Regions from separate parts of the Homo sapiens genome. Here region 2 is linked to region 1. The links come from fine-mapping of genetic effects on gene expression. Tissue or cell type: lung. Region 1 holds a variant in brackets; the other region holds the start of a gene. All regions are shown on one strand. Distances are between the middles of the regions.

The links. PIP is the estimated chance that this variant, and not a neighbour inherited with it, causes the effect.
Region 2: CYP2F1 starts here. The variant in region 1 is the best candidate, but not a certain one, in a credible set for the expression of CYP2F1 in lung (TOPMed, PIP 0.52).

The regions. Positions count from the first base shown.
Region 1 is chr19:41,079,927-41,082,837 of GRCh38, reverse strand. No RefSeq gene overlaps it. Among named protein-coding and RNA genes, the nearest start is that of CYP2A13, 7.1 kb to the left of the region's middle. The variant C/A (reference allele first, on the strand shown) is at 1,446.
Region 2 is chr19:41,112,758-41,115,668 of GRCh38, reverse strand. CYP2F1 (cytochrome P450 family 2 subfamily F member 1) reads right to left here and starts at 1,237. Exons shown (of 10, transcript NM_000774.5): 1 at 1,177-1,237.

The DNA of each region.
Region 1 (2,911 bases):
AAAATCCTTTAAAATGCAGACCACTTCTTGACAGGGAGGGCTAGGTAAACAACAATTCGTAAGGGAACTAATTTTTTTTTTTTTTTTAACATGCTGTGTCTCTTTAAATGTAGAAAGGTGATCAAGATGGCTGACCAGATGCAGGTAGCATGGCCTTCTTCGTGGAGAGGAACTCCATTTTAAACAGATTATCTAGGAGAGAATGCTGGAATTCATCAGAGAAGAGAAGGGATTCAACAGAGAAAAGAAGGGAAGCACAGGAAGTGAGTAAGGAGAGGGGATTGACTGAAAGCTGAGAGTGGCTCCTGGATGAGGGGAAATTATAAGAGAGAAACTCCCAGGGCTCCACACTTTGAAATGGGCTTTTATGATCTTGGCTATGGTAGAAACCCTCAACCCACTTGGGTCTTGGGCCTGACATACGGAGCTCCCTAAAGATTGTGCAGAGACATTGCCCTGGAAAATGGAACCCACATGGAATCCCATTTGAGCCTAGAGCAGCCTCAGCTGAGTGCTGTTTTGAGAACCTGGATACTGGAGATCTATAGAAATGGTTGCTGCTGCTGTGCTGCTTCAAGTAAGTATAGAGGAGACCCAGCACTCCCAGGCACCCATGGGAGGGTCCTTTCTGCCTTGCTGCGGGCTGCTGTTGAGACTGAGATGTGAGTGAACCACATTCCCCACAGCTTCTTACCCTGGTTGCAGGCCCAAGGAACCATTTTGAGAGTTTAATACTGTGCCATGCCCTGCCCTCAGGCCCAGTTTGAGTTGACCTGGCTGCAGCCACCACCTGGCCAAGGAGGGACAGGGAAACAAAGCTCCTTTACATATACCTGGGACAATTTCCCCGACCCTGCTATGGGCTGCTGTGACAGGGAGACTTGAGCAGACCCCACTCCCCACAACTTCTTGTCCATACTGCTTACCAGAGAGGGGCCTGTCCTCTTTGGTCACAAGCCCACAGCTGGCACAATCATAAGAGTTTAATGTTGGGCTCTGTCCCCCTTTTTGCCAAGTCTGAGGTGATGCCACTGTAGCCGCCACCCAGATGGGGGAGGCACAGGGGAGAACAAGCTCTCCTAAGCACACTTAGGTCAATACCACTACCCTGCTACAGGATGCTGTGGGACTGGGGAGTAGCCCACCCAACCCATTGCATCTACCAGCAACACCAACATGGACTGCCTGGGTCCTAGTGGATTGCTCCACCACCACTACTGCCATCACCCATATCACACCAGGTTGTGCTTCCCAGGGGCCTGAGAACTTGCCCACATCCCTGTCCCCCAACTCCCATGACTCCTCTAAGCAAGCCACTAGGAAGCTCAAGAATCAGCCTCCCAGGACTCACTAATACCAAAGCCAGTAGACTGCTCTGGGGCTCAGCCATACTCTCCAAGCTGCTGCCACCACCAGGGCCCAAAGATGGGCTCAGTTGGCATCCA[C/A]CACCCAGCTAAATTTCTCCTCGATCTCAAGTAATAACTGTACTCTAAGCTACCAAGGAAATCAAAGATACCAGTGACCCTGGGTACTGCCTATGAAGTCATACTAAGATCACACTACCATAGGCACCCAGAATCAAAGCCAAAGTATCCTACTCAACTAACAACATGCATACATTTTTCAGGAAAAAAATTTTCTCCTACAGGGCAATTAAAAAAACTTGAACAAGCTACTGCTACACAAGATTTGCAGATATCAATGAAAGGACACAGGAAACATGAAAAAGGAGAAAAATGTGACATCATCAAAGGACCACAATTGTCCAGCAACAGATCCCAATCAAAAAGAATCCCTCAATATGCCAGATAAAGAATTCAAAATACTGATTTTATAAAGCCCTACAAGATGCAAGAGAAATTTGAAAATCAATACAAAGAATTAGAAAATCAGTCCAGGAAATGAATGAGAAATTTACCTAGATAAATAACTTAAAAAAAAAAACAAGCAGAAACTCTTGAACTAAAAAAATTCAATGAAGGGAATACAGAATATATTCAAAAGCTTCAATAGTAGACTGGACCAAGCAGAAGAAAGAACCTCAGAACATGGCTGGGTGCAGTGGCTCATGCCTGTAATCCCAGCACTTTGGAAGACCAAGGTAGGTGGATTCCTTGAGGTCAGAGTTCAAGGCCAGTTTGGGCAACATAGTGAAACCCTATCTCTAAAATTAGAAGAAAAAAAAAGAATCTAAGAACTTGAAGACAGGTCTTTTGAAATGTCCTGTCTGACAAAATAAAGAAAAATAAATAAAAAAGAATCATCAAAGACTTTGAGATATCTGGGACTACATAGTGTGACCAAACTTATGCATTTTTGGTATTTCCAAGGGGGAAGAGAGATTTTAAAAAATTAGAACACCTATTTTTAGGAAGTAATTGATGAAAACTTCCACATCTAGCAAGAGAGTTAGACATCCAGCTACAGAGCCCCAGCAAATACATTGCAAAAAGAACTTCACATAATAGTACATTTAGAAAGTCTAAAGTCAAGAAGAAAGAAAGAATTTTAAAATTAGCAAGAGAAAAGCATCTAGTTACCTATTAAGAAAACTCATCAGACTAACAGCAGACTTTTCAGTGGAAACCTTACAGGCTAGAAAAGAAGAGAATGGCATTTCCAACTGCTGAAAGAAAAGTACTGTCAGCCAAAAATTTTATGTTCTGGCAGAATAAGCTTCATAAATGAAGGAGAAATAAAATCTTTTCTAGAGAAGCAAATGGTGAGTAAACTTGTCAACACTAGCCTGTTCCTATGGGAGATGCTCAAATGGGTCTTAAATATGGAAATGAAAGGTCAACACTCAGCGTCATGAAAACACACAGAAAAATAAAACTCACATTTCTTATAAAAACAACCTCATACATGAGGAAGAGAAAAGAATCAAATGGCAACATGGGAGAATCTCATC
Region 2 (2,911 bases), 33 kb before region 1:
TCTATCTATTCTTCTATCATCTATCATTGATCTGTCTATTATCTATCATCTATTATCTATCTATATCTATCATCTATCTACTATCTTCATAATCTATCATCTGTGTATCATCTGTCTATTATCTATCTATCATCACCTGTCTGTCAAGAGACTGTCATACAGAGACAGTGATAAAGAGAGATCAAGACACACAGGGACAGAGACAGACAAACACAGAGATAGGGAGAGCCAGAGAGCACATCACAGAAAGAGAGAGGCTGACATAGACTAGAGAAAGAAAGAGACAGAACTAGACAGACACAGAGCTAGAGAAAGACAAGGGAGATTGAGTGGAGAGACAGTGAGATGGACACTGACTGAGAGACAGAGAGGGACATGGAAGGATGGAGAGAAAAAGGGTAAGAGGGACAGAGAGAGGGAGAGACAGAGCTAGACACAGAGACTGAGGGAGACGAGAATGACAGACAGAAACAGATACACAAAGACAGAGTCACATAGACAGAGATGGAGAGAGAGAGAGAGAGAATAAGAGAGGCAGGGAATATTAGAGCCACACAAAGAGACGGGTAGGCTGCAAAGGGCAGACCAAGAGAGACTGAGGCCGGGCACGGTGGCTCACGCCTGTAATCCCAGCACTCTGGGAGGCCGAGGCAGGCGGATCACTTGAGGTCAGGAGTTTGAGACCAGCCTGGCCAACATGGTGAAACCCTGTCTCTACTAAAAACACAAAAATTAGTCAGGCGTGGTGTTAGGCACCTGTAATCCCAGCTACTCAGGAGGCTGAGGCAGGAGAATCGCTTGAACCCAGGAGGTGGAGGTTGCAGTGAGCTGAGATTGAACCACTGCACTCCAGCCTCAAAAAAAAAAAAAAAAAAAAAAAGAGAGAGAGAGAGAGAGAAAGAGACGGAGACAGAGAGGAAGGGCACAGGCAGAAACAGTGACAGGAAAAAATCAAGTGTTGCCAACCATGGGGTTGCATTGCAGAGAGAGAAGCCACCTACTTGGTGAAGCACCAGTAAAGAAATCCCAGTGCTCAGAACAGGGACATGAGAGCTCTCAGAGGAAACAGCAAAAAAGATTCCTAGCCAGTCTCAGAGACAGAGATTGGAGCTGGCGACCCACCCTCTCTTGGGAGACACCCCCTCCTTCTCTGCCTCCCTCACCGGGGCCCTTTACCTGCTGAGCTGCAGGAGACACTGGCTGGGATGCGCTAGAGCCTGCAGCTCTGGGTGTGCTTGGGGGGTGGTGGGGCAGAGGTTGTTCTTAAGTTGTTTCTGCCCACACCCTCCTCCTTAACCCCACTTTTCTTGTTCTCGCTGTGAACTTTAAATCCCTCCCATCATCTTGCCATACCTTTCCTGCGGCCCTAGGGCTCACAGCCAGCTGGAAAGGTGCCGTGGGAGGGGGCTGCGCCTGGGGGCCCTCCTGGGATGGGGCAAAGCTTTCTTTCTTTCTTTGTTTTTTTTTTTTGCTTTGCCAGTTGGAGCCTGGGCCTGGTTTTGGGGTAGTCATGGGGCTGTCGCAAAATGATGGGCCAGGGATGGGGGCTGGGTTCCTTTGGTATTTGGGGCACTTGTTTCTTTTTCTCTGGGTTCAAGTCCATTTCTGCCACTGATGGGCCGAGTGGCCCTGGCTAAGTCCCTTTCCCTCCAGAGCTGGAGTTTTCTCTTTCTCTGGAAGCCTATTTTTTCATAGTTCTCCATGCTGTTCCCTGTCTCTTGCCGTGGGTCTCTGAAATGCTCTGTGTCTTGCTTTGCTTCTGCCTCTACAGTCTCTGCCTCTGAATCTTTTTGTCTCTCTGTGTCTCTGTCTCTCCCTCCTTTGGTGTCTCTGGGTCTTCATTTCTTATGCTCTCTGGGCTTTCTCCTTCTCTCTGCTTCTCTCCCTGATCTCCCTGTAAGTCCCTCTCAGTCACTGTCTCCTGATCTCTCTGGTCTCTCACTCTCTCTATCTCTCATGTCTCCACGAGTCAGACTGCACTTGGTGGGACTGAAGCCAAGCTGAGGCTGAAGGAGTGTTTAAGAAAAGGGCAGAGCTGGAAGCCACAGGGAAAAAGCCTCTCAGACTAGAATGACACTCTCTCCCACCACTGGCTCATAAACAGCCCTCCTCCTGCCCTCCTGAGCACCCTACTAGCCATGTCTACTCTCAGCTCCTGCCTTAGAAACTCACCCTAGTAGGCCAGGCGCAGTGGCTCACGCCTGTAATCCCAGCACTTTGGGAGGCCGAGGTGGGTGGATCACCTGAGGTCAGGAGTTCAAGACCAGCCTGGCCAACATGGTGAAACCCTGTCTCTACTAATAATACAAAAATTAGCCAGGCATGGTGGCTCACGCCTGTAGTCTGAGCTACTTGGGAGGCTGGGGCAGGAGAATCGCTTGAACCCGGGAGGTGGAGGTTGCAGTGAGCTAAGAACATGCCACTGCACTCCAGCCTGGGCAACAGGGTGAGACTCGGTCTCAAAAAAAAAAAAAAAAAAAAAAGAAGAAGAAACTGGCCCTAGTTACCCACCTCCTGGCCAGGTCACAAGGGCAGAATGCAAAACCTGGAGCTGGGCCAGGGCTCTGGTGCCAGGGGCTAGGCTGGGTGGAGAGCCCCTGCGGTCAAGGGTCTGGGAGGCCAGGTGGAGGTGTGGGTACCCCCACAGGTTCGTGGGTGTGCACCAGGATTGCTGTTCTCAGAGGGGCAGAGGAGGAAGTGTTTGGAGGTCCTGGGGAATTTGACACCCTAGGTCCCAGGCATATGGTGGGGTGGAGGTGGGGCCCATGCTGTTGTTTCAGTCCTGGATAGGCCGGTTGGGGCAGGTCCTGGAAGAGGGCTGAAGGCTTGATGATGGGATTATATAGCTCTAGTTTCCCTTGGCGTCTACTCCCTACTTTTAAGGGGAGGGTGTAGTGCTGTATCCACGCCA